Homo sapiens: one gene and its partners. The protein of the gene in region 2 purifies or fractionates together with the protein of the main gene of each other region. This does not show direct contact. Each region holds a gene or a part of one and is shown on either strand. Other genes may lie near its edges.

Region 1 (7,026 bases), on a different chromosome or scaffold from region 2:
TAGCAAAATAAACTTCCATAAGACTTGAGGTGAGATAAAAGAAAGAAACAGTGTTCTAACCCTCCAAATCAAGGTTTTTCAAACTATGCTTAAAGAGGAATTCTCTTAAAATGGACTAATTGGGCATTTCTCAATTTATGGTGAATGGATTTTGAAAGGCTAATGGATAAAATGTTCTCAAGTTGAATTTTTCTTAAAAATTTGGTGCCTACTCAAAAGTGCATGAACAAGTAGCAAAATTAAGTAGTAGGGCTTAATTCAAAAGCTCATGTGATCATAGGATTTGAAAGTGTCTGCATATAAGCATATTGTAACTGCCCAGTGGGTTCTTCTTCCCCACTGCCCAGGTAGAGCTGATCTATCAAGACAGGAGAATTGCAATAAGGAGTTTATGTAGAGCTGCTAAATGGGAGAGCAGAGTTTTATTATTGCTCAAATCAGCCTCCCCAAACATGCAGAGTCTAGGGTTTATCAAGGATAGTTTGGTAGGCTGGGGGCTGGGGAATGGGTGCTCCTGGTTGGTTGGGGATGCAGTTACAGAGGTGGGGGCCAGAGGACCAGTTGGAGTCATCCGAAATGCAAAAGTCTGAAAAGACATCTCAAAAGGCCTTTTTTAGGTTCTACAATAGTGATATTATTTACAGGAGTAATTGGGGAAGTTACAAATCTGTGACTTCCAGAATAATGTCTGATTATCATTTAACTACCTACATTTTAGCAGAATTCAGACCCCTCTCATAAGCCTAACCTTATAGTCTTTCATTAGTTTTGCAAAGGTGATTTAGTTTCGGGAAGGGCTATTATCATTCTTGCTTTAAGCTTACACTATAAACTAAATTTCTCCCAAAGTTAGCTTGGGCTGCATCCAGAAATGACCAAGGGCAGCTTGGAGGTTAAAGGCAAGATGGAGTTGATTAGGTGAGATCTCTTTTACAGTCATGATTTTCTTACTGTTACAATCTTTGCAAAGGTGGTTTCAATAGTTCCTGCTAATAAATATGTTCCTAGGTGATTCTACAGAGAGCAGATTATTCCAAAAAGAGCATCATGATTTACAGACACTTATTCTAGCTGAACTTGTTTTTTTGTTTTTTTTTTTTTTAAGAGACAAGTCTCTGGGTTAGTGTGGTGGCTCACACCTGTAAATCCCAGCACTTTGGAAGGCTGAGGTGGGAGAATTACTTGAGCCCAGGAGTTGGAGACCAACCTGGGCAACATAGTGAAACAGTGTCTCTATTTAAATAAAAAAAAAAAGAGGCTGGACACGGTGGCTCAGGCCTGTAATCCTAGCACTTTGGGAGGCCAAGGCAGGCAGGTCACAAGGACAGGAGTTCCAGGCCAGCCTGGCCAACATGGTGAAACTCCGTCTCTACTAAAAATACAAAAAATAGCTGGGTGTGGTGGTGCACGCATGTAGTCCCAGCTACTCGGGAGGCTGAGGCAGAAGAATCACTTGAACCCAGGAGGCGGAGGTTGCATTGAGCCGAGATTGTGTCACTGCACTCCAACCTGGGTGACAGAGCAAGACTCAGTCTCAAAAAAAAACAGAGAGAGAGAGAGAGAGACAATGTCTTGCTCTGTCATGCAGGCTGAAATGCAGTGTTGGGACTTTGGCTCACTGCAGCCTTGACCTCCTGGGCTTAAGTGATCCTCCCACATCAGCCTCTCGAATAGCTAGGGCTATGGGCATGCTACCATGTCCAGCTAATTAAAAAAATTTTTTTTTGTAGAAACAGAGTCTTGCTATGTTGCTCAGGCTGGTCTCAGACTCCTAGTCTCAAGTGACCCTCCTGCCTCAGCCTCCTACGGTGCTGGGATTATAGGCATGAGCACTGCGCCTGGCCTCATCCTAAGCATGTTTGAGAAGTGTGGAGAATAGCAGAAAAACTGAAGATAGTGATACGTACAGTAATAGATGTATGTACAGAATTTTACGACAGCATAGGGCCTAAGGAAGTTTCAGGGAAGCCATCTGGGAGAATGTAATACTTGAGCAGAATTTAAAGAATGTGAATGCCAGGCGCGGTGGCTCACGCTTGTAACCCAGCACTTTGGGAGGCCGAGGCGGGCGGATCACAAGGTCAGGAGATCGAGACCGTCCTGGCTAACATGGTGAAACCCCATCTCTACTAAAAATACAAAAAATTAGCCGGGCGTGGTGGCGGTCGCCTGTAGTCCCAGCTACTCAGGAGGCTGAGGCAGGAGAATGGCGTGAACCTGGGAGGCAGAGCTTGCAGTGAGCCGAGATCACGCCACTACACTCCAGCCTGGGCAACTGAGCGAGACTCCGTCTCAAAAAAAAAAAAAAAAGAATGTGAAGTCTAGGGAATAGCACATAAAAAGGCAGGGAGACAGAAGAGAACATGGCACTCTGGAGTTGCTGCAGAAATTTCAGAGTGGTAAAAGGGAAGGATGTTTGTGAATTTGGTTAACTAGCCAGGAGTCTTTAAGGAAAGGACATACCATGATGCCATGCTAAGGAGTTTGGACTTTATTTTTTGTTTGTTTGTTGGTTTGTTTTGAGACAGGATCTCACTCTGTTGCCCGGTCTAGAGTGCAGTGGCTAGATATTGGCTCACTGAAACCTCTGCCTCCTGCACTCAAGCCATCCTCCTACCTCAGCCTCCCAAGTAGCTGGGACTATAGGTGCATGCCACCATGTTCACCTAATTTTTGTAATTTTTTTAAAGATGAGGTTTCACTATGTTGCCCAGGCTGCCCTCGAACTCCTAAGCTCAAGCAATCCTTGGCCTCCCAATGTACTGGGATTTACAGGCATGAGTCACTACATCAGGCCTGGACTTTATTTTGAAGAAAGGGGAGCAGGTGCTGAAATTCCAGTAGAGAATAACATGATTTTTTTTTTAGACAGAGTTTCACTGTTATTGCCCAGGCTGGAATGCAATGGGGTGACCTTGGCTCACTGCAACCTCCGCCTCCTGGGTTCAAGCAATTCTCCTGCCTCAGCCTCCCGAGTAGCTGGGATTACAGGCATGCGCCACCATGCCCAGCTAATGTTTTATGTTTTTAGTAGAGATGGGGTTTTTCCGTGTCGGTAAAGCTGGTCTCGAACTCCTGACCTCAGGTAATCCGCCTGCCTCGGCCTCCCAAAATGCTAGGAGGCGTGAGCCATCATGCCCGGCCGAGAATAACATGATTTTTTTTAGAAATTTACTTTAGTAGAAGTTACACTACCAGAAATATAGAAGATGACACAAAGTAGGAAAAAATGAGACAAGACCAGTTGGAAAGCTATAGCTAAAAACCAGGAGAGAAATGATAAGGCTTTACTTAAGAAGTAAGGGTAGAGAGAGACGATGAATTTTGAAAAGCTTGTAAAAGATAGGCTCCACCGGACTACAGTGTATGGGGGGTTGGGAGCACAGGGGTGAAGAAAATGGAAGTTTTCTGGTTGGAGTAACTAGGTGAATGGTGGTGCCATTAATGAAGTTAGGAAATTTTGGAGGCAGAGCAGGCTGAAGACATTAATAAAATGAATATCATTTGAATATGCATACTTCGAAGGTCCTGTGGGACCACTAGATGTCTATGCCCAATAAAGTCTGTACTAGAAACGCAGATTTAATAGTCACAGCACCATAAGCAGAGTGCATGGTTCCTTAGAAGAAAGTTTAGCAAATAATAAGCCCTATGGTTTCCTTAGTGGGAGACAAACAGCCTTCAGAATATACAAAAATCCCTGCCTTTTTGGAGCTTTATTTTAGCAGAGAGGGGAACAAGGGGCACATGGGCAATATAAAATAGTAAAATGTATGGTATATTAAATGGTGAAAGAAGTTCTGTGGAGACAGATTAAGCAAGGAAGTGGGACTGAGTATCAAAATCAATTTTTAGAAGGTTTGTTAAAGCTGATTAGCGGCCCCATACCCAGAGTTTCTGATTAAGTAAATTGGGAGTGGGACTAGAGAATTTGCAAGTTCCCATGTGATGCTGATGTTGCTGGTCTTTTTTTTTTTTTTTTTTCTGGTGATGAAGTCTCGCCCTGTCACCCAGACTGGAGTGCAGTGGCATGATCTCGGCTCGCTGCAATCTCTGCCTCCTGGGTTCAAGCGTTTCTCCTGCCTCAGCCTCTTGAGTAGCTGGGACTACAGGTATGTGCCACCATGCCCGGCTAATTTTTTGTATTTTTAGTAGAGATGAGGTTTCACTGTGTTAGCCAGGATGATCTCGATCTCCTGACTTCGTGATCCGCCCACCTCAGCCTTCCAAATGCTGGGATTACAGATGTGAGCCACCACACCCAGCCAACACATTTTTAAAATCACTAGGATAGAGAGTTGCCAAAGGGGTATGATGTTGCACTTTTAAAGAAGATGGTTAAAATGGGCCTAAGATGGTGACATGAGAGTAGACTCAAAGGAAGTGAGGGAGTTGGTTGTGTGACTATCTGGAGGAAGAGTTGATGCAAAAGCCCCTGGAATGTGCCTGGCATGTTTAAGGGACGGGGCAGAGTGCATCTGCAGAAGGTTGAAGCCAGAGAGGTATGGGGTCTGGATTGTAGAGGACAGTCCATCAGTCATCCATAGGATTTGGATGTGTTCAGCATAGAGGTACTATTTCAAGCCTTAAGATTGAATGAGATTGTCAAAGAAAGAGCAAAGCAATCTCATGATTTAAGGCAAAGTGTGATAATCAGCTAAGACACTGAGAACTGGGAAGCCTGGATGATTCTGAGACATTTTGAAGCAAGGAACAATAGAACTTAGAGCAGAAAGCAAATGACTCAGGGAAAAACATCAAAGGTGATACCAGGTTTTATAACCTAGGAGAGAAGAATGATTGAAATTGGGATAAAAGGGAGACGAGGAGTAATTAGGAAGAGGATTTGATTTCTGAAAATCAATTATAAGCAGTAGTTCCCTGTTTATCCTGTTGCCTTGTGCCAGGTGCAGTGGCTCACACCTGTAGTCCCACAGCTTTGGGAGGCCAAGCCAGGAGGATATCTTGAGGTCAGGACTTTGAGACCAGCCTGGGTAACAGAGTGAGATCCCATCTCTTAAAAAAAAAAAAAATAGCCAGGCATGGTGATGTGCCTGTAGTCCTAGCTACTTGGGAGACTGAGGTGGGAGGATTGCTTGAACCCAGGAATTTAAAGCTTCAATGAACCATGATCTCGCCAGTGCACTGCAGCCTGGGCGACAGAGCAAGACTTGTCAAATAAATAAGTAAATAGCAGTTTGGTCTTTTGTTGGAGGAACGTCTATTCTTAGCTTGGACACTGCGGTTTTTCCTTGGGCAGCAGAAGCAATGTGGCGATTGAAGAAGTGACCTAAAACTTTGATGTTAGGTAGAAGCAGATGGCCCAAGCCAAGACAAGTGCTTGTAAATCCACTGGTGGGAGCCCCTCCTCCTAACAGCAGGTTATTAACGCTGCCAGAAAAAAAGTGTCCCCTCTACCGGTCTGGTGAAGAAACCTCATCGCTACGGGCCTGGGACTGTGGCACTTCTAGAGATTCTCGTTACCAGAAATTGACCTAGCTTCTCATCTGGAAGCTGCCTTTCTAGAGGTTGGTGAGAGAGATCACCCAGGATTTCAAAACCAACTTTAGGTTTCAGAGCACAGTCATTGGGGTGCTGCAGGAGGCTAGTGAAGTGTACCTGGAGGCTAGTGAAGTGTACCTGGTGGGTTGGTTTGAAGATGCTAATTTGTGTGCCATCTACGGTAAGAGAGTTGGCTCTCATGCCCAAAGACATCCAGTTGGCTCGCCAGACACGGAGTGAGCGAGCTTAAGTGAAGGCAGATTTTAAGGCATTTTATATGAATTCTGTAAAATACTTTGGTTTAATTTGTGACTTTTTGGGGAGAAATTATTTATAATATGTTGCATTTGTGCTTAAGTCATTCCGTCTTTTGGGATGAATGTGAAAAGTGACTGTTCATAGACCTCAGTGACGTAAGCACTGTTGCTCAGGAGTGACAAGTTGCTAATACGCAGAAGGGATGGGTGACATTTTTTCATTCTCATGACGCATGTTTCTGTAAGTTAATGACTTGTTAGGTAGCTATTAAGGAACTAGAGTTGATAAATAAATGTGTATAGGTTCCTTTTGCAATATAACTGGTTATTACTTGATCCAAGTGTTTAACATTTGGAGCTAAGTCTGACCATACATTACTGTGATAGAATGTGGGCCTTTTCAAGGGTGAAGATACAAGCCTTAACCACAGTATAACTTGCAGTTTCCTTAAACAAACAAAGAAATAAAAACCTAGCATGGAGTACATTATGTGCATTTATAATAGCTATTTTAAATATTGTAGTGTCAACATTCAAAAATTAATTCTTTTACATTCGCAAATGGTGGGGAGTCTTGTCATTAAGGTGTGTATAACTTAGAATCCACTTGGTTTTCTCCTAACTGGACTGCATTTGTTTTCATAGTAGTAAAATGTTATGTGTATTACACCTTGCATAAGTCCTCATTCTACTACGTGTTAACTAACCCTCTAGATGATAATGCAGATGCTAACTGTGGGATTTTATTTATAAGAACTCTAGAATAAATACCAGTTATTCCTACCAACATCGGCTGTTACTAATATTCTGAAGTAGTTAGTGCAACTTTTCATTGTGTTGTGGTTGGTCTCCTAAGTAGGTTGGATTTTTCTCCTCTTCTAAGAGAAAACAATAGTGAAATTATTTTCTTTCTCTTTTCTCTCTGTTTCTGTCTCTTTCTCTCTCTCTTTCTCCCTTCCCTTCCCTTCCCTCCCCTCCCCTCCCCTCTTCTTTTCTTTTCTTTCTCTTCTCTTCTCTTTTCTTTCTTTCATGGGGTCCCTTGCTCAACCTGTTGCCCAGGCTGGAGTGCAATGACATGATCATGGCTCAGTGCAGCCTCAACTTCCTGGACTCAAGCAATCCACCTGCATCAGCCTCCAAAATGGCACATGCTACCATGCCCAGCTATTTTATTTTTACTTTTAGTACAGATGTGGTCTTGCTATGTTGCCCAGGCTGGTCTTGAGCCATTGAGCTCAAGTGATCCTCCTGCTTTGGCCTCCTAAAG
Region 2 (7,026 bases):
AGAATCCTCCCCTGGAATTTTCCACTAAAAGTAGTTGGCAGTAAAACATTCCAGGGCAAAGGAAACCAGCTTAGACCGTTCCATGCTCTGAGCTGTGTCTGGCAGTTTTCCTGTTTAGGAAGCAGTGATTGGGGGATCTTTCCGACCTGGCCGGTAACTTGGGCTAAGATGCTATCAAAGCATTTCTTTCCAAGTCTGGTGACACTTCAAGGCAAGAAAATGAGTGCTAAATTAACTGAGCATGCTGCCTCTCCTTGCTGACCTTCTTACCCTCAATTCAATTGTCATTTGGTCTTGAACCCCACAGATCCCCCAGGGAGTCCTTGAGCGAAACAATGTGATCACTCTGAACATAACAGGGAAAGCTGGAGCCACTCTGGACCTTCTGGTAGAGAACATGGGACGTGTGAACTATGGTGCATATATCAACGATTTTAAGGTAGGACAAACCACACTGTCAAGACTAAGGTTTAAGGGGTGACAACTTAGAAGTTGAAGCCCAGTACAGTGGCTCACACCTGTAATCTCAGCACTTTGGGAAGCCAAGGCAGGAGGATCACTTGAGGCCAGGAGTTCAAGACCAGCCTGGGTAAAATAGTGAGACCTCTACAAAGAATTAAAAACTTAGCCAGGTGTGGTGACATGCACCTGTGGTCTCAGCTACTCAGGAGGCTGAGGCAGGAGAATTGCTTGAGTCCAGAAGTTGGAGATTAAAATGACCTATGATCATGCCACTGCACTCTAGTCTGGGTGACAAAGTGAGACCTTGTCTCAAAAAAAAGAAGTAGTTGAGCTATTTTGAAGAGCTGTTTTCCTCTGTAGGTGATGAGAAAGTTGAGCTTTGCAAACAGAACCTTTCCCCTGTGTTTGAGTTTGGTCATCCTATAGAAAGAAACAGAAGGAGGAAGCCCCTCCACCATGCTTTTCCTCTGCTTTAAAAGACCACCAAGCTCACTGAAGGCACTCCTTTGCCAGTAAAGCCAGCTGAGCCTCTGTTCTGCCCTGTTTTATGGGTTTGGATGGTTAGCCTGTGGCAAACTCTTCACTTGTAGGAAGCCTCTTCCCTTGGGGCACTGGCTCTCACCTCTGTTGATTACTCCTGTGTCCAGATGTGTAGCCCAAATAAGTTTTTCTAACACATATTTTTAGAGCATTATTCAGCAAGCATTTGTTAAGCTCCCACTCCGCGAGATGCCCCACCAGGTGCTTTGGGGAATGCAAAGGTGTCAAGAGACAGGCTTCTCTCAGGGAGCTCAACCTCCGCGAGAGGAGAGAATGCCTTATCAAGGGAACAATGGCACCACCCAGGCTAGGGCAGGACAGGTGTCTGGGGCTATTTCCTGACCCTCTTGAGATCAGGCAATTACATCTTAGGGAACTTAGGGAATAGCTGTGTGCAGGCCACCTTTGCCTCCAGTATAAATGTCTCTCTCATAGTTCTTGTGCTCAGGGTGGACTTCATGGCCTCCTGCCTGGCTCTCACAGGCCACATTGACCCATGGGAGTGACTCGACTCTGTTGTGTAGTCTCTGGGTCTCCAGTACCTGTCAAAGAGCCTGACATACAGCCACCTGGTTAATATTTATCAAATTATTAAATGGGCAATCGAGACTTGGTATCTGGGATTCCACTGGGAATGGGGAAGTTCCCTACATACAAGCCAGGGAAGGGGAAGTTAGCTGAGCCTTGACAGCCCAGCCCTGGCCTGTGTGGAACAAATAGAGCAGCTTCTGAATTCAGGTCTGAGGTTTGCCATCGTCATCATTACCTTCCTATCCTCTTAAGGTATCACAGTATTCTCATGTATGTTATCTCACTTGGCCCTCATAACAGGTGAGTGACTCGGGTGTGGTCCTCCCTGTGATGATGGCTGAGGTGCTCAAGGCCAATATTTGCTCCTGGCTGCATCCGTCGTACCTGCTCCATCCGCAGTGGGATGACTATTCCTTTGTATCCCACACTCACTCATTCCTTCTGTCCCCAGATTCCATCTTGAGACAGGATCTTGCTGTCACCCAGCCTGGAGCGCAGTGGCACAATCTCGGCTTACTGCAACCTCTGTCTCCTGGGCTCAAGCAATCCTCCCTTCTCAGCCTCCCAAGTAGTTGGGACTATACGTGCATGCCCCCACACTAGGCCAATTTCTGTATGTTTTGTAGAGACTGGATCCCTTTTTGTTTTGAGATGGAGTGTCGCTCTGACACCCAGGCTGGAGTACAGTGGCGCGATCTCAGCTCACTGCAACCTCCACCTGTCAGGTTCAAGCGATTCTCATGCCTCAGCCTCCTGAGTATCTGGGATTACAGGCACCTGCCACCACACCCAGCTAACTTTTGTATTTTTAGTAAAGATGGGGTTTCATCATGTTGGCCAGGTTGGTCTTGAACTCCTAACCTCAAGTGATCTGTCTGCCTTGGCCTCTCAAAGTGCTGGGATTACAGGCATGAGCCACTGCGCCTGGCCCATCTTTCTTGGTGCCCATCTTTCTCTATTCTAGCAGTGGCTCTCAGCCAAACTCTGAAAATTTGGGAATTTGGGATCAATCACTCTAGCAACTCAATGCCCTTTCTGTAGAAGCAGAAACTCTGGGCCTTTTATAGAGACATCATGACCTGCAAAGGAGAAAGCTATAGTTTGGGGAATATATCTCTTCCCAAGGATTTGTAATTCAACCTCCAGTTAGATCTGTGTTACTTCGATGTACACATATTTCGAGGTTCATTTCCTGTTGGTGTTTTGTATCCCGGTTTGCTTTTCCCATTTCCCTGGAATGCAGAGACATGTGAAGCCTTTTTCCTTCCCTCCCCAGCTCACTGTGCTCTGTTTCTGCTTTGCAGGGTTTGGTTTCTAACCTGACTCTCAGTTCCAATATCCTCACGGACTGGACGATCTTTCCACTGGACACTGAGGATGCAGTGTGCAGCCACCTGGGGGGCTGGGGACACCGTGACAGTGGCCACCATGATGAAGCCTGGGCCCACAACTCATCCAACTACACGCTCCCGGCCTTTTATATGGGGAACTTCTCCATTCCCAGTGGGATCCCAGACTTGCCCCAGGACACCTTTATCCAGTTTCCTGGATGGACCAAGGTACGTGTCTTCATGGGAAGGGTTTGAATTCAGGCCTAAACTTTTGGTTGTTAGTGTCTGAGAAAGAATCACAAAGAGCTGTTAGTGAGATATCGTGTGATGGTTTTGAGTGTGGCGTTTCGGACATTCTTCAGGAGGCGGATTGTGGCAGATCTTCAGGGATTCAGTGGCCAGCTCGGAGGTGCTGCCATCTGCCCCCTTGTCATTGGCTTCCTGTAGTGAATGACACCATCCTGCCTCCTCCAAGAAGAATCATGACCCCTTTTGATGCTGATTATAGGGGTGCTTTCTCTTTATCTTGAGGACAATCCAGTCAAGACAAAGAGGTGGATCCCTCTGGGAGAGTCTGTCTGGTTTTCATTTATGCCAAGCCCAGTGCTCCCAGAATATCCCCACCTGCATCCAGCCCCACACCCCTGGGGCTTCTATCATAAGCTGTCTGCTTCTCCACTCTTCCTCATCCATTTTCACTTCCCAGTCACTCCGCCTTGTCGTTTGAAGACATTGGCATATCTTCCTTCACCGCCTTCTCCTCTCCCTCATGTCCTGTTTTCATCCTAGATCACCTTACCATCACTCATTCAACACACTTCTCATTCTGTGGCCACTATGTGCCCAAGGTGTGTGCCAGGCACTAAGGATACAATCATGAATAAAACCAAACATGGTCCTTTCCCTCATGGAACTTTCAGTCTAGTGAGGGAGGCAGACTCATATTAAAAAGTAAAACCATAGCTGTGATGGATGCTAAGAAGGGCTATGGGGTTGATAATAATTGGTGCATTTTGCCTTGTCAGGGAGGTCAGGGAAGCCTTCCCTAAGATAGTGATGCTTGTCAGAGATATGAAGGATGAGTAAGAATTAGCATGGCAAGAAGGGAAGAAAGCATGTTCCTGGGAGAGGTAACAGCTTGTGCAAAGGCCATGGGGTTGGAGGGGAAAATGTCAAGTGTGGAAAGTAGGTAGAGACTAGATTGGGACGGGCCTTATAGGCCACGTTAAAGTTTTGTCTTTGTGTTGAGAGCCATTGAAGCAGGAGAGTGACATGATAAGACTGTGATCTGACAAGCTCCTCTGACCCCATTGTGCAGAATGGTTTGGGTAAGGACACTTATGGATTCGAGGAAACCATCTAGGAGGCTGGACCATAGTCTCATTGAGAAACTGGGATGGTGGTATCTAAGATGGAGATGACATCAACTATTTGAGAGATGTTCAAAGTTGGATCAATAAATTGTGACAATGGATTGGACAGGAGGGTTTGGGGAGAGGGATATGTCTCGGATGACTCAGGTCTCAAGCTTGCAGCTGGGCAGAATGGTACCATTTGCTGAAAGAAGCAGCTTCAGAAGGGGACTTAGGCTTAGAAAGGGGGGTCATGAGTTTGAATTTAGACCAATTGTGTTTGAAAAGCTGCCTTAGTCTATTTGGGCTGCTATAACAAAATACCATAAGCTGGGTGGCTTATAAACAACAGGCATTTATTTCTCACAGTTCTGGAGGCTAGGAAGTCTTCAATATCAGGGCACCAGTAGATTTGCTGTCTGGTGAGAGTCTACTTCATCATAGACAGCACCCTCTATGTCCTTACATGGCTGAAGGGGCAAAGGAGCTCTCTTGGGTCTCTTTTATGAGGACACTAATTTCATTCATGAGGGCTCCACCTTCATGACCTAATCACCTCCCAGAGGGGGCCCCACCTCCTAACCCATCACATGGGGGCTAGAATTTTAACAGATGAGTTTTGGGTGGACACAAACATTCAGACCATAGCAGAGGCCTTGGAGAATGGCTGGGAAAGACAGTATTGGAGGAGGGTTGTTGGATCTATAGGCTGGGAATTCAGGGCAGGGATCTGGGCCAGGAATGTATGTAGAAGATCATTGTTGTATAGATGATTGTTGAAAACATGGGCTGGATGAGGTCTCTCAAGGAGAGAGGATGCAGAGGGAAGAAAAGAGGACGTAAGGCTGATGTTTGAGGGACAAAAACATGATGAAGACTGAAGAGGAGAGACCAAACAAGTAGGAAGAAAACCAGCATTTATGCTGCCAAGAGGACAAATAAGATAAAGACAGAAGCACTTCGGTGGTTTTAGAAGCAAGGAGGCCCTTGGGAATCAGTAAGCCTTGTTCCAGTGGAGTGAAGCATCTCCCAGCCAGATTGCATTCTATAGAGAAGACCAGGGTAAGGAATACGAACAGGAATACTTGAATATAAACGTTCTTTTTGAGAAATTTAATTCTGAAGAAGAGGAGAAAATTATGTTAATAGCTGGAGGAGGAGAAGGCAAAAGATGTACATGGTGTGTGTTTAATAAAATGCCCTTTTATTTATTTATGTGTTGCTTGTTTAAAATTTATTGAAATGTATTTTCATTATTCTGTTTGAAATATTTTCTTTTTTTTTTTTTTTTTTGAGATGGACTCTGTCACCTAGGCTGGAGTACAGTGGTGTGATCTCTGCTCACTGCAACCTCTGCCTCCCGGGCTCAAGCAATTCTCCTGCCTCAGCCTCCAGAGTAGCGGGGACTACAGGCACACACCACCACTCCTGGCTAATTTTTTTTATTATTTTTATTTTATTTTTTATTTTTTGTTTTTTTTTTATTTTTATTGGAGACGGGGTTTCATCATGTTGGCCAGGCTGATCTCGGACTCCTGACCTCAAATGAAGTCTCGAAAAGTGCTAGGATAGACATCTGAATTCATTCCAACTTATAGTTATTATAGTTATTATAATACTGCTGTAAACACTTGCATGTAAGTTTTTATGTGAACTTGGCCTCGAAAAGTGCTAGGATTACAAGTGTGAGCCACCACAGCCATCCTGTTAGAAATATTTTCTACTTTCCCATATGATTTCTTCTTTGAACCATAGATTATTAAAAAGTATGTTTTACTGGGTGTGGTGGCTCATGCCTGTAAATCCCAGCACTTTGGGAGGCCGAGACGGGTGGATCACCTGAGGCCAGGAGTTCAAGACCAGCCTGGGCAACATGGCAGAACCCCATTTCTACTAAAAATACAAAAATTAGCCAGGCGTGGTGGTGAGTAACTGTAATCTCAGCTACTTGGGAGACTGAGGTGGGAGAATCTCTCGAACCTGGAAGGCAGAGGCTGCAGTGAGCCAAGAGCATGCCACTGCACTCCAGCCTGGGTGACAAAGCAAGACTGTGTCTCAAAAACAAAACAAAAACAAACAAACAAAAAAAGTATGCTGTTTAATTTCCACATATTTTGGGTTTGTAAAAATATCTTGTAATTATTAATTTGTAACTTAATTCCTCTATAAAACTTCTAAAATTTCTCTCTAGGGAGAGAAATCTCCATGATCTTGGGTTAGGCAAAGACTTCTTAGATTTGACACCTAAGGCATTATCCTTAAAGAACAAAAATTGATAAATTGGACTTTATCAGAATTAAAAATATTTGTTCTTCAAAAAGCATTATTAGGAAAATGAGAATCCAAGCCACAAACTGGGAGAAAAATAATTTTCAAATCATATATCTAACAAAGGACTTATATCTAGAATATGTAAAGAATTCTTACAATTCAATAATAGACAAACAGCCCAGTCACAAAAGGAGCAAAGAACTTGAATAGACATTTTACCAAAGAAGGCATAAGATGGCTAAGTACATTTGCATTTGTATACCTTCTTTGGTAAAATGTCTATTATAAACTAAAATTAGTGGCTGATTAATGTTCAACATTATTAATCATTTGGGAAATGCAAGTCAAAACCAAAATGAAATACTACTTCACACTCACCAAGATGGCTAAATAGTAAGAAGGACAATAGGCAATGTTGGAAAGGACATGGGGGAAAGGGAATCTTCCCACATTGCTGGTAGAAAGATAAGAAGGTACATTTGGGAGCATAGTTTGGCAATTTCTTCAAGGGCTAAACATAGATTACCATAGAACCCAGC
Region 3 (7,026 bases), on a different chromosome or scaffold from region 2:
TTTGCCATGTTGGCCAGGCTGGTCTCGAACTCCTGACCTCAGGCGATCCACTCGACTTGGCCTCCCAAAGTGTTGAGATCACAGGTGTGAGGTCAGGTTGTGTTTTTTTTTTTTTTTTTTTTGAGAGGGAGTCTTACTCTTATTGCCCAGGCTGGAGTGCAGTGGCGTGATCTCGGCTCACTGCAACCCCCATCTCCTGGGTTCAAGCGATTCTCCTGCCTCAGCCTCCTGAGTAGCTGGGATCACAGGCATGCGCCACCACGCCTGGCTAATTTTTTGTATTTTTATTAGAGACCGGGTTTCTCCATGTTGGTCAGGCTGGTCTCCAACTCCTGACCTCAAGTGATCTGCCTGCCTCCGCCTCCCAAAGTGCTGGGATTACAGGTGTGAGCCACCACACCCGGCTGATTATGCTGCTTTTTAGATGAGACGATAGTTTTTATTTTTAAATCATTTTTATTTATTAATTTTTTTGAGATGGAGTCTCGCTCTGTTACCCAGGCTGGAGTGCAGTGTTGTGATCTTGGCTCACTGCCTCCTCCACCTCCTGAGTTCAAGCAATTCTCCTGCCTCAGCCTCTGGAGTAGCTGGGACTGCGGGTGTGTGCTACCACTCCTGGCTAATTTTTGTATTTTTAATAGAGATGGGGTTTTGTCATGTTGACCAGGCTGGTCTCTAACTGCTGACCTCAAGTGATCCTCCCGCCTCTGTCTCCCAAAGTGTTGGGATTACAGGTGTGAGCCACCGTGTCTGGCCGAGATGATACTTCTAAAATAAGGCCCTTTGTTACCTGCGGTGGGCCGCGCTCTCCTCCTCTGTAGAATGAAGGCTTCGGTGTTTCTCAGCTTCTGTTAAACCTGTGCCTACTTTTGAGAAACATGAGCGCTCCAGTCTCCCCCGCTCAGTATTTTGATATGTCCTCCGAGGGGTTTTATGCCTCTTTGTTGGAAGGTGATGTGATTTTGGTTCTTTCGAAGGTGGTTTTTGTGTGCAGAAAAGACTCTTTAGGGAATCGTTGTGGGGAAAGGGCAGGAGAGAGTGGGGCGTCGTCCTTGAGAGCGTGAGCACTGGAGTCAGGGACTTGGGCTGAGTCACACACATGTAATATACTTGTGAACCGTTTAGATCCTGGGCAGAAGCAAGACATGTTGGGAGGCTAGGGTTTCCTTTTTTTAAAATTTAATTTTGTTCATACTTCTCTATCCATGTGTATTTTTGAAGTCTGTAGAGGTGGGGTTGTGATGTCCAGGATAGCCCCCGACACACAGTCCTCCTCCTCTCCGTGCAGGTGAGAAGCTTGCCATTAGAATTTCACAGAGGTCTTATAGCAATGTCACTTTAATCTTAGTGTCACCTGGGAGGGTTTTACTGCCACGATCTCTGCAGTCAGGCTTTGGTGACCTGAAGGTTATGCAGTTTTGGGCTTCCTATTTAAGAAAAAGAAAACAAAATTAAAAATGCAAAATTAGATAGAGGGCCATGGAAGGGGCCTGAAGCTGAACCCCATTAGCTCATGGTACAGCTGCCTCTGGCCATGGGGACCATGGCCAAATCCCCTCAGGAAGTGTCAGCCCACTGATGGGGACAGTGGAGGTGTGTATCGAGGCATCTTTTTCTTATTTGATACAGAGAGCTCATTTAATCTCCCTAACCTTTAAAAAAATTAGACTTTTTATTTGAGACTATAGTAGTTGTAGCTCCATGTGCATTTGTCAGAAATAATACTGAGGGATCCTATATACCTTTTGCCCAGTTTCCCCCCGTGGTGCCATGTTACAAAACCACAGTATGTTATCACAACCAGAATGTTGACTTGCTGACACCTTGAGGTATGTGTTACTATCCTCATTTTTATTCACAATGAAACTAGGGTTCAGGGAAGCACACAGGCTTGCTCCAGGTCACCCAGATCGTGCGTGTAGAGCTGGGAGTTGAATATCGGCCCTGACTTCCAGGCAGTGGGATTTCCATCATGACCGTCTGTAGGCTGGGGGCAGCATTCATTGGATTGTTCATTTGTTTGTTTGTTCACTAATCCCTTCAACAAACATGTATTGAGGATCTCCTATGAGCCAGATTCTTTCACGTGGGTCATCTAATTTAATTTTTCCCCAGCTCTGGGGAATCAGGTAATAACGTTTTCTTTTTATATCTGACAAAATTGGCTCAGAGAGGTTATGGCAACTCTCCCATTTATAAAGGAAAGGTGGTATATTTGTGTAATCTCTCCTTTTATGTTAGGCACAATGCTAGGCCCTTTACATTCGCAACCTCCTCAATCTAGATACAGTTTTATAAGGCAAGTTCTTTTTCTTTTAATTCTTTTTTTTTTTTTTTTTTTTTGAGATGCAGTCTGGCTCTGTCGCCCAGGCTGGAGTGCAGTGGCGCCATCTGGGCTCACTGCAAGCTCTGCCTCCCTGGTTCATGCCATTCTCCTGCCTCAGCCTCCCAAGTAGCTGGGACTACAGGTGCCTGCCACCACGCCGGGCTAATTTTTTGTATTTTTAGTAAAGATGGGGTTTCACCATGTTAGCCAGGATGATCTCGATCTTCTGACCTTGTGATCTGCCTGCCTCAGCTTCCCAAAGTGCTGGGATTACAGGTGTGAGCCACTGCGCCCCGCCTCTTTTTTTTTTTTTTTTGAGACGGAGTCTCACTCTGTCACCCAGGCTGGAGTGCAGTGGCGCAATCTTGGCTCACTGCAGCTTTCACCTCCCGGGTTCCAGTGATTTTCCTGCCTCAGCCTCCTGGGTAACTGGGATTACAGGCACGTGCCACCACACCCGGCTAATTTTTGTATTTTTAGTATAGGTGGGGTTTCACCATGTTGGCCAGGCTGGTCTCGAATTCCTGACCTCAAGTGATCCGCCAGCTTCGGCCTTCCAAAGTGTTAGGATTACAGGCATGAGCCACCATGCCCGGCCAAGACAAGTTCTATTATCACCACTATTTTGTAGCTGAGGAGTTCCAGGGAGCCCGGAATTCAAATCCAGATGTGATTGCATGGTGGATTTTTCTTAATATCCTGTTGAGGGGATGGGGGAGCAATTACACACGTGTTTATTCATTCACTCAACAGACATTTTTGAGCACTGACTCTTACTACTCCTGGTTAGGTGGTGAGAATAGAAAGACAAGAAACAGCCCCATTTCTGTAGAAGCTCCATGCTGAGGCCAAGGGACTGAAGGTCAACAGTTACAGCATTATGATCAGAGCTGCGACAGCCACGTGTAGAGCCCTAAGACCTGTTGATGCCACGGCTTTCCTTGGGGCTTCCCCTGCCTCTGGGTAGTGAAGGTCACAGTCACTGCCTCCCAGGGTAGGCTCTCAGCACTCAGGACTCTGTGTCTCACAGCCTCATTTCTTCTCTCTGAACAGGGACTTCAAAATGAGCGTCCCTGACTACATGCAGTGTGCTGAGGACCACCAGACGCTGCTCGTGGTGGTCCAGCCTGTGGGCATCGTCTCCGAGGAGAACTTCTTCAGGATCTATAAGAGGATTTGCTCTGTGAGTCAGATCAGCGTGCGGGACTCCCAGCGAGTCCTCTACATCCGCTACAGGCACCACTACCCACCCGAGAACAACGAGTGGGGTGACTTCCAGACCCACCGCAAAGTCGTGGGCCTCATCACCATCACAGACTGCTTCTCGGCCAAGGACTGGCCACAGACCTTTGAGAAGTTCCACGTGCAGAAGGAGATCTACGGCTCCACACTGTATGACTCCCGGCTCTTTGTCTTCGGGCTGCAGGGGGAGATCGTGGAGCAGCCGCGCACCGACGTGGCTTTCTACCCCAACTACGAGGACTGCCAGACGGTGGAGAAGAGAATCGAGGACTTCATCGAGTCACTGTTCATCGTGCTGGAGTCCAAGCGTCTGGACAGAGCCACAGACAAGTCTGGGGATAAGATCCCCCTTCTCTGTGTCCCGTTTGAGAAAAAGGACTTTGTAGGACTGGACACAGACAGCAGGTAAGCTTACCTAGAGACCCAGGCCCCTTGGCTTCCCTGCATCAGAAAGGGAAAGCACAGGGCAGAATTTCATTGCAGCAAGGAGTAGAAAGGTGTTGTCCATTGGTTTTTAAAACTAATGACTTTCTGTCAGAATCTGTTTGAGTGCTGCTAAAAAAACCAACCAAACAAAAACCAGTGACTTTTAAAGACAGAGACAGCCTTTGGTTGGGGGAGTCCTTTAGAGTTGTCTTGTACACTCCCCTCTTTTTAGTGGGGCTCCCCTCGTGGGACTCCTGGAGCTCTGTCCCATACAGCAGCCACAGCCAGTTGTGGCTTTTGGGCACTAGACACGAGGCTAGTTTTAGTTGAGATGGGCTGTGAATAAAACCCACGCCAGATTTTGAGACTTACTTCTGAAAAAATAAACTTTCTTGCTAATTTTTTTTTGAGACAGAGTCTTACTCTGTCTCTCAGGCTGGAGTGCAGTGGCGCGATCTTGGCTCAGTGCAACGTGCACCTCCCGGGTTCAAGTGATTCTCATGCCTCAGCCTCCCAAGTAGCTGGGACTACAGGCAGGTGCCACCATGCCTGGCTAAGTTTTGTATCTTTAATAGAGACAGGATCTTGCCACGTTGGCCAGGCTGGTCTTGAACTCCTGGCCTTGAGTGATCTGCCTGCCTTGGCCTCCCAAAGTGCTGGGATTACAGGTGTGAGCCTCTGTGCCTGGCCAACTTTCTTGCTAATATGTTTTATACAGATTACATGTTGAAATGATAGTATTTTACATATCTTAGGTTAAATAAACTATATTTTAAAAATCAGTATCAACTGTTTCATTCTTACTTTTAAAAATGTGGCAACTAGAAACTGAAATGTACTTACGTGGCTTGCATTTTATTTCTGTTGGACAGCACTGTGCTAGAGCACAGTTTGAACAGTTTTATTCAGTCTCGTCCCTTTGGTTCACAGATGAGAGGGTGAATCTGGAGAGGTAAGGGCTAGGTCCTAGCTGAGCTAGAAGTAGAGCCCACGTCTCCGGATTGCCAGGCTGTGCACCCTGCGTATGTGGCTACTTTTTCCCTCCTGATGGCCACAGTGTCGAATTCCTCACTTACAAAGCAGCCAAGCATGGATATCAGGATGCCAGAAATACCACCTGGGAGCTCCTAAACAGCTACCGTATACAAATGAAAAGTATGTCTGTTCTCTCTGTGTACAAGGAGTGTTGGATAGAGCAGGAAAAGGTCAGCTTCCCATCTTGCCTGTTATTAAGTCAAAAACTTTATTTCAAATCAAAATTGCAGATGAGCTCTTCCTTGCCACTTCCTTCCACTCTCTGCTTGCTGCTGTGTCTTGCCATGGTGGCTGTTCTGCAGAGCTGGATGAGATGCAAGCCTAGGCAGCAGCTGTTTGCCAAGAGGGCGTCCCCATTTGCCAGGGAAAGTGATGTGTCACTGTGTCAGTCACTGGCCTCCTGGCTTGGACAGGGCTCTCCCTCCTCCTGTATAGGATTGGCTGATGAGCCACAGGTGAGGATTCAGTGATGTAAGGTGCATGCCACCATAGTGCCTGCTGCAAAGTAGGTGCTCAGTATGTTTCTGAAATTTATCTAAGGTCACACGGTGTCGTTCTGGTTGTTGGTAAGTATGAGGAGAGATGATCACAGAATTGAGACACAGTAGTCTTAAATCCAGCCCTCAGAGTTGGAAGCATGGAATAGCCTCAGTCGCACCTGCCTGTGGTGCTTTGCAGGGTCTGGAAGGAAGGAATTTTCATTTCTTCACCCAAATGTGCATATTTGGCTTAAGGAAAGGAAAAGGCATGCTGTAGACCTGCTCTGTGTTTAATCCTCACGGCAGCCCTGTGATCTACACGGGGTTGCTGTGCTGGCTGATGTGGGGCTGAGGCAGCAAGGTTTAGAGACCCGGGCAGCCACCAAGCAGCAGAGCTGATATAAGCACCAGGTCTGTCTCTGAGGCCCGGGGCCTTTCTACCTCACCTTGTTGCCTTCTGCTGCGCCTCCTGTGCCTCGTGAATAGCGCACACTGCTGTCCAGCCAGCAGGCACTGTGGGAGTCATCCCTGATAAGGTGTTGCTGTATGGTGTGCACAGCTTGGCGGCCACCTGCCAGGTCGGCAGGGAGTGGCCTGCCCCTGCTTTACAGAGAAGGGGTGAGGGGTTGAAGCTCACAGGCAGCATGGGTCAGGAATCCTGCTCTGACCCCTTGACTCATGCCTTCCTCCTTTGCCACATGGGCATCAGTGACATTTTTCAGTCATCCACTTCTTGGCTGTGAGGTTGCAGATCCACCTTCAAATGCCAGGTCTTTTTTGCCTTTTGAAATCTGAGCTCACAACTCTGCAGGAGGAGCGGGAGTGTGCTGTGACGCAGTGCGTCACGCATAGTGGATAAGGACTGACAAGTGTTTGTTAGAGCCTTCATATGCCAGGCATGGCTCCAGGCACTGAAAATACAGTGGCACATAAAGCTGCTTGCTCACTGTAGTGGGACAGCCGCAATTAGACATCAGTTAGCATTTGAACTTCAGTGAGATAATGACACCAGTGAACTCAAATCAAATACATCCTCCTCTCATAATGGGTAACCTGTTGTTGCTTTTGTTTCTCCATGGTTCTCTAATTTTTTTTTTTTTTTTTTTTTTGAGATGGTGTCTTGCTCTGTCACCCAGGCTGGAGTGTGGTGGTGCAGTCTCGGCTCACTGCAACCTCCACCTCCTGGGCTCAAGCGATTCTTTGTGCCTCAGCCTCCTGAGTAGCTGGGATTACAGGCGTGCGCCACCACACTCAGCTAATTTTTGTATTTTTAGTAGAGACAGGGTTTCACCATGTTGGCCAGGCTGGTCTCGAACTCCTGACCTCAAGTGATCCACCTGCCTCGGCCTCCCAAAGTGCTGGGATTACAGGTGTGAGCCACAGTGCCTGGCTGGTTCTCTAATTTTTGAAGGAATGCTTTGGTGCAGGAACAAAGCCTTGTCTCCCCTGCAGCTCTTGGTAGGAGTGAGGAAGTGTCCAACCTGAAATGGGGTGGTATTTTGTAGCTCAACAGGAAAT
Region 4 (7,026 bases), on a different chromosome or scaffold from region 2:
TCCAGAAAAACTCAAAATTTAGCGTATTTCTGGTGTGTTTCATAAAATCAGACTATCAAAGAGAAGAAACCCCAGTGGGTCATGTGGTTACCATTTCAGAGTACTCAAAGGAGATACAAGCTATAAGGAAAAAGATGCTTGTTTTCATTTTCTAAAAAAAAAAAAAAAAAAAGTGATTGAAATGAGATCTTGAAATCTGTACTCAAGTGATTTCATTAGGTGAAGCAAGAAATGAGAATTGATTTGAACTGATGTGAATTGGCTGGAAAGGGATTCTTAGATCAGCTAAGTGAACTTTCTGGTTTTCCGGATGTGGTTGGAGCAGCTTTGCCGATTACCCACTGGTTAACAGCAGAGTCACAGCTAGAATGTAGCTCTCTTGAACTTCCATGCTGTGTATCTGAAGAGGAAGGTGCTCCTTAAGGAAGCAGAGAGGCTTCTCGGGAAAGGGGAGGGGATCCTTGTTGCTCCTGAGGCTTTGACAAGCCCTTATTAATTTGCATTTTAAAGGCAGGCAAGGCCGCACACACCAGTAGTCCCAGCTACAGTGGAGGAGGCTGAGGCGGGAGGATCACTTGAGCTGAGGAGTTTGAGACTGCAGTGAGCTATGATCACACCACTGTATTCCAGCCTGAGTGACAGAGCAAGACCCCATCTTTAAAAAAAACAGTTGTGCTTTAAACTTTGCTTTGGGGGCCAAGTGTGGCTATTTTAATTCTCCGGCGTTCTCTGGAAGCTGGATCCTGTGGAGTGCTCTTTGCCTGAGTTTCCAAGTGGCTCTGTGCTCCCTTCCGCTTGCGCCCTGTAGACTGCTTCTGTGTTTCTGTGCCTTTAGTAGGTAGTGTAGACCCATACTTGGACTTCCTGGCTTCATTGCTGACTAGCAGTGTACTTGTGGACAAGCCCTTCCTTCACCTTCTCTTAGCCTTGGCCCTCTTGCCTGTCAGCTTGAGATCATGAATGATAGGCTCACTTTCTTATCCTGAGATTCAGCTATGAAAGTTCCTCGACATGTGTATAAAGCCAGACCAACGATGTGTTGTGCTCTTATCACCACACGCTCATTTCTCAGATCTTTGCCTGGGAGTCTAATTATGTCGTCCTGAGTAGGTACTCTTTCTCACGGAGTGGGGTGGGTGGAAAAGGGCTATCTAGAGATGTTGAGTCTGTCCTGGCATGGGGTCTGGAGGATGGAGGCCAAAGCGGGAGAGATGGGGTTTCAGTGTGTTGATTATCCCTAGCTGTAATGAAAGCTACTGTTTGTTGACTTTGCAAGGAGGAAAAAGGCTCCACAAAAGGCAGAAATCTATCTTCAAGGAGCACTGAAAAACTACCTGGCTGAGGGCTGGGCACTCCCCATCACACACACAAGGAAGCAGCTGGCCGAATGTCAAAAGCACCTTGGACAAATTGAAAAGTATCCTTTAATGTTTTCATGAAGCAGGAAAATTATTTTCTGTTTATACGGCAACATTGCCCACAATCAATGTTTCATTCACACCTATTATTAAGGAGAGAAAAGTCCTAACTTATACATATGTATTGTATAGAAAATGAATGAAATGTCTAGTCGATTTTTTATAATCTAATTTTGAGCCCTAGTAACTTAAAAAAAAAAAGCCCTTTGGCTTTTGAAGCCTCTGTGAAGGCCGTAGGAGACTTTGCATCCACTTCCCCCCGCACTCCTAAGTATGAGCCTCTCCACGCTCCTTACCTCTCCGCTCCAGCTACCTGCAGACCAGCAGCCTCTTAGCCAGTGACCACCACCTCACTGAAGAGGAGCGCAAGCACTTCTGCCAGGAGATACTTGACTTTGCCAGCCAGCCGTCAGACAGCCCAGGTAAGACCAGTTCTTACAACTTGACTAGGAATATTTTCAAATATTACAGAAGTAAAAAAGAATACAAGATATACCAACCACTTACAGTAAACAGTTGCTAACATTTTGCTGTGTAGCTGACATGTATCTATGTCTTTCACCTGACTTTTTTTTTTATTTTTGCTTTAAGTCAAACTCTAGACCACATTAGATCTTCTAAAAATAAGGACAGTCTCTTAACCACACCCAAAGAATTAATAAGGTTCTAATATCATCTGCTAAGTAGGCCATATTCATATTTCCCTAATTGTCTTAAAGTATTTTATAAATCATTTTTAATGGAGTCCAACAGGATATCACATATTACATGTGGTTGTTAGATCTCAGTTCTCTTTTAATGTAAAAAAAGTTCTTCCCATCTCTTTTTCTTCTTCTTCTTTTTTTTTTTTGAGACAGAGTCTCGCTCTGTTGTCCAGGCTGTAGTGCAATGGTGCCATCTCAGCTCACCACAACCTCCGTCTCCCGGGTTCAAGCAATTCTCCTGCCTCAGCCTCCCAAGTAGCTGGGGTTACGTGCGCCCGCCACCATGCCCTGCTAATTTTTTGTATTTTTAGTAGAGACAGTGTTTTGCTCTGTTGGCCAGGCTGGTCTCAGACTCCTGACCTCAGGTGATCCACCCACCTCAGCCTCCCAAAGGGCTGGGATTACAGATGTGAGCCACCGCACCCAGTCTTTTTCTTCATTTTTTAAGATGGTGCTTTTTTTTTTTTTTAAAATGTAACAGCATTATTGTGATATTCACAAACCATGTAATTCACTCATTTGAAGTTTATAATTCAATGGCTTTTAGTCTGTTTCAGGAATATGTGCAACCATTACCACAGTCAATATTATTGTTCTTTTTTTTTTTCTTTTTTTTTTTTTTTTTTTTGACTATCTTGCTCTCTTGCCTGGGCTGGAGTGCAGTGGCACGATCCCAGCTCACTGTAGCCTCAACCTTCTGGAGTCAAGAGATCCTCTTACTTTGGCTTCCTGAGTGGCAGGGACCACAGGTGTGGGCCACCACACCCAGCTATTTTTTTTCTTCTCTGTCTCCCAGGTTGGAGTGCAGTGGCATGATTGTAGCCCACTGCAACCTCTGCTTTTTGGGCTCAATTGCTCCTCCCACCTCCACCTCCTGTGTAGCTTGGACTACAGGAGCATACCACCATGCCTGGCTAATTTTTGTATTTTTAGTAGAGATGGTTTTGCCATATTGCCCAGGCTGGTCTTTAACTCCTGAGCTCAAGGAATCTACACACCTCGGTCTCCCAAAGTGCTGGAATTACAGATGTGAGCCACCATGCCTGGCCACCACAGTCAATTTTAAAACATATTTATCACCCTAAAAAGAAACCCCATACTGTAATCCCCAAAGTGCTGGGATTACAGGCGTGAGCCACCACGCTGGGCCCCAGATGCTTGTAAGTGAATACACCCCAGCAGTCAATAACCACATCAACCTGACCCTGAAACTTCTAGGAACTTCTGCCTGCCCTGGGAGGCCGGGGCAGGCAGATCACTTGAGGTCAGGAGTTTGAGACCAGCCTGGGCAACATGGCGAAACCCTGTCTCTACAAAAAATTAGCCAGGTGTGGTGGCGGGCACCTGTAGTCCCAGCTACCCAGGAGGCTGAGGTAGGAGGATCGCTTGAGCCCAGGAGAACTGGGCTGTAGTGAGCCAAGATGGTGCCACTATACTATAGCCTGGGCGACAGAGCGAGACCCTGTCTCAAAGAAAGGGGGACAACAAAAGATCCATGTGGGTGGGTTTCTCGGGAGCATCATGACGTTAGTCTGTGGAGTCTTTAACGCGCCCAAGCTGACTGTTGGTAGAGCCGTGACCACATCTGCTGCTGCTTTGTATTTGAGACTATTTGAGTTGTGATGTTCCTGCCAACGTTCCTTGGTATCTCTATACGAATAAAATATTCCACAATCGTTTACTGTTTCTCATGATCTATGGCATCAGTCTTGGCAAGTCCTTTCGTTGATGAATATTTAATAAATACTTAACTGGTCACTTCTGCAGCCTTGTGTATTTTCTAGACAAAACCAAGGTACTTACAGTTCGGTCAGAGAGAGAAGGGCCCAGAGAGAGCATTAGGCTCTCATTCCAGCAGCAACTGTAGACCTGGCTGGTTGCTGCCATCCTGGGCCTGGGGGCACAGAGGGGTCCTGCTTAATCGGCTGACTTTGTAGACTGGCAGACACCTGGGGTTTGTTTCCACATCACAGCAGGGCACTTGGGCATCTTCACTGAGCATGTTTTTAAGTAGGTGAGAAAATATTGGAATCCCTTGGAAATAGCTGTAGAAATTGGACTATTTACAAATTGTCGTTTGAAATTGAGAGGTAGTTGACCTGTATTTCTCTTAGGTTTGTCAAAGCAGACTTGAGAAGGTTAATTTCTGTACATTTTATGATTTCTAGGCATTACGTAGGTATTTGCTAATATTCTGCTTTTGATACAATAGCCTTTGGGGGGTGTGAAGATGGCAGGAGGCTGGGCTCAGCTGCTGTGCCCATCACTGCTGCTTGCTTCAGTCTGCTCTCGGTGATCTTACTGTGTCCGCGGCCTGCTGCTGCTTACTGTCAGGAAGTGTGACTTGGGGAGTCACTTACGATAATGTCTATTTACAGGTCATAAGATAGTGCTACCCATGCATTCCTTTGCACAACTGCGAGATCTCCATTTTGATCCCTCCAATGCCGTGGTCCACGTGGGCGGCGTTTTGTGCGTTGAGATAACCATGTACAGCCAGATGCCTGTGCCTGTTCACGTGGAGCAGATTGTGGTCAATGTCCACTTCAGCATTGAGAAAAACAGCTACCGGAAGACTGCGGAGTGGCTTACCAAGCACAAGACGTCCAATGGGATCATTAACTTTCCACCCGAGACCGCACCTTTCCCTGTATCCCAAAACAGTTTGCCCGCGCTGGAGTTGTATGAAATGTTTGAGAGAAGCCCATCTGATAACTCCTTGAACACGACTGGGATTATCTGCAGAAACGTCCACATGCTCCTGAGAAGGCAGGAGAGCAGCTCCTCTCTAGAGATGCCCTCAGGGGTGGCTCTGGAGGAGGGTGCCCACGTGCTGAGGTGCAGCCACGTGACCCTGGAACCAGGGGCCAACCAGATAACATTCAGGACTCAGGTATGCGTTCAGGGTGGGAACTTGACTTTCAAGTTTGTAAAGCAGGGCCGTGGAGCTTACAAGAACTGTCTGGAGTGTGCTGTGAATTGAGTAGAGTCCTTTGTTCTCCTAACCCTGTTTTTGTCTCTGTCCTTATACAAAAATACACTGATGTTTTCTTTCGTGTTTTATACAATTTTCTGACATTTGATAAATTCTGAGTGAAGTTCTTAACGTAGATATTTGTTCTTAGATTAAGTTAGCTTTTTAACTCATTGGATTATTGGATTCAGTTAGCTTTCCCCCCTGCATATGAAAATACACACCCTCATTTGTTAAAATGAGCTTTCAAAGAAGGTGGTACACTTTCCCACTCAAACTTATTTTCCTTTTGTGGCTGGCTGGGTGTCAAAACTGGTGTTTCTCACCCACTCTAACATAAAGTTTTCTCTGACACAGGATATCCTGTAAGTTCCACTAACTCAACAGGATTTGGCCTGTGGAAAGTACAGCTATTTGTCACATTTTTTAGTCTAGGGCAGGGCTTAAATCTCGTGCTGAATGTCTCTACAATGCCACAAATACAGTTTAGATAAGTTGAAAATACCTTATTAAAGTTAAATTTAAGCATCAGTTACTCAGAAAATCACGAATTGAGAGATTCTGAGGGCCTTGTGAAGAGCCCAAGCTTAGAGGTTTAGGCACAAGAGCAGGGGGTACAAGAGGGAAAGAAGTACAGGCCTTTCTGGAGTTCAGAGAGACCGCTGCACCGCGCTACCGCAGGAAGCTAACTGCAAAACTGGGTGACGTGGTTTCAAATGCCTGATTCTTTGACTCTAGGCCAAGGAACCTGGAACGTATACACTCAGGCAGCTGTGCGCCTCGGTGGGCTCCGTGTGGTTCGTCCTCCCTCACATCTACCCCATTGTGCAGTACGACGTGTACTCACAGGAGCCCCAGCTGCACGTGGAGCCGCTGGCTGGTGAGTGGGGTCCCCAGCCTTTGAGGAGGCGTGCTGCTGGGGCAGTTCTGAGGAGACCTGCTGAGATGCCAGGCTTCTCATAAGTTTTAGCTGTGTCTGCCTTTAAGAGATATTTTGGGTAACATAATGGAAATTTTGCCTGGGAACTAGCTGACTGCCTCTTTTGTTTATCTGAATGTTTGCTTTCCTGTAATTGCTTTTTCATGTTTAATAAACATGGTGTATCTGAAAATAAGAAACACAGAAGAATTAGCTCTGAGAGTGGAAAAAAGAAACTCAAGGTATTTTTTTCTATTGGCTCACTCAACCTAATGGTCAATGCAGAGGACTTCTGGGCCCAAATGTGCAGGGATTTCCCCCTGCCAGCAAGCAAGCAGTCGGTCCTGCAATTCAGTTCTGACCCTGTCTACTGGAGCTGGCGTCAGACACCACAGGGTGAGGGCTCAGTCCCCAAGACAGTCCCCCCCTTCCCATGCCAGCCACCAGCCCAGGGTTCTTTTGCTTGTGCTCCTGACCAACTAGCTAGAAATCAGGGCTCTCACAACCCCCTTTCTGGGTTTGATGAATTTGTTAGAACAGCTCACAGAACTCAGGGAAACAGGTTGACTGGATTATTATAAGGGATATAGATGAAGAAGTGTGGAGGGTGAGGTATGGGGAAAGGGGTGCAGAGCTTCCACGCCCTCCCTGGGCGCCACCCTCCAGGAACCTCCATGTGTTCAGCTGCCTGAAAGCTCTCCAGACCCTGTCCTTTGGTTTTTATGGAAGTGACATTACACAGGCATGATCGATTACACCACTGGCCACTGATGAGCAACTCGACCTTCAGCCCCTCTTTCCTCCCTGGAGGTTGGGTGCCACTGCTGAAAGGCCCGACCCTCTAATCCTGCCCTGGTCATTCTGGTGACCAGTCCTCATCTTGAAGCTACCTTGGAGCTGCCAGCCTCCAATCAACTCATTAGCCTACAAAAAGACATCACTTTGGAGATTCTAAGGAATTTGGGAGCTAGTATGCCTGGAAATGGGGTTGAAAACTACATGTGTATTTTA

The links.
Region 1: the proteins of GLB1 (region 2) and TRAPPC6B purify together in Homo sapiens (affinity purification with mass spectrometry; 2 studies listed by BioGRID and IntAct, with this or other methods). This does not show direct contact.
Region 3: the proteins of GLB1 (region 2) and TRAPPC9 purify together in Homo sapiens (co-immunoprecipitation; 3 studies listed by BioGRID and IntAct, with this or other methods). This does not show direct contact.
Region 4: the proteins of GLB1 (region 2) and TRAPPC10 purify together in Homo sapiens (affinity purification with mass spectrometry; 2 studies listed by BioGRID and IntAct, with this or other methods). This does not show direct contact.

Annotation. Positions count from the first base shown.
Region 1 is NC_000014.9:39,160,332-39,167,357, reverse strand, and holds part of TRAPPC6B (trafficking protein particle complex subunit 6B), read left to right. Parts: intron 1-7,026. UniProt on the Homo sapiens protein: Component of a transport protein particle (TRAPP) complex that may function in specific stages of inter-organelle traffic.
Region 2 is NC_000003.12:33,010,122-33,017,147, reverse strand, and holds part of GLB1 (beta-galactosidase isoform a preproprotein), read left to right. Parts: intron 1-307; coding exon 308-439; intron 440-2,837; coding exon 2,838-3,092; intron 3,093-7,026.
Region 3 is NC_000008.11:140,447,737-140,454,762, reverse strand, and holds part of TRAPPC9 (trafficking protein particle complex subunit 9), read left to right. Parts: intron 1-3,379; coding exon of another isoform or gene 3,380-3,389; coding exon 3,390-3,973; intron 3,974-7,026. UniProt on the Homo sapiens protein: Functions as an activator of NF-kappa-B through increased phosphorylation of the IKK complex. May function in neuronal cells differentiation. May play a role in vesicular transport from endoplasmic reticulum to Golgi.
Region 4 is NC_000021.9:44,078,288-44,085,313, forward strand, and holds part of TRAPPC10 (trafficking protein particle complex subunit 10), read left to right. Parts: intron 1-1,276; coding exon 1,277-1,417; intron 1,418-1,727; coding exon 1,728-1,840; intron 1,841-4,500; coding exon 4,501-5,015; intron 5,016-5,834; coding exon 5,835-5,976; intron 5,977-6,300; coding exon of another isoform or gene 6,301-6,411; intron 6,412-7,026. UniProt on the Homo sapiens protein: Specific subunit of the TRAPP (transport protein particle) II complex, a highly conserved vesicle tethering complex that functions in late Golgi trafficking as a membrane tether.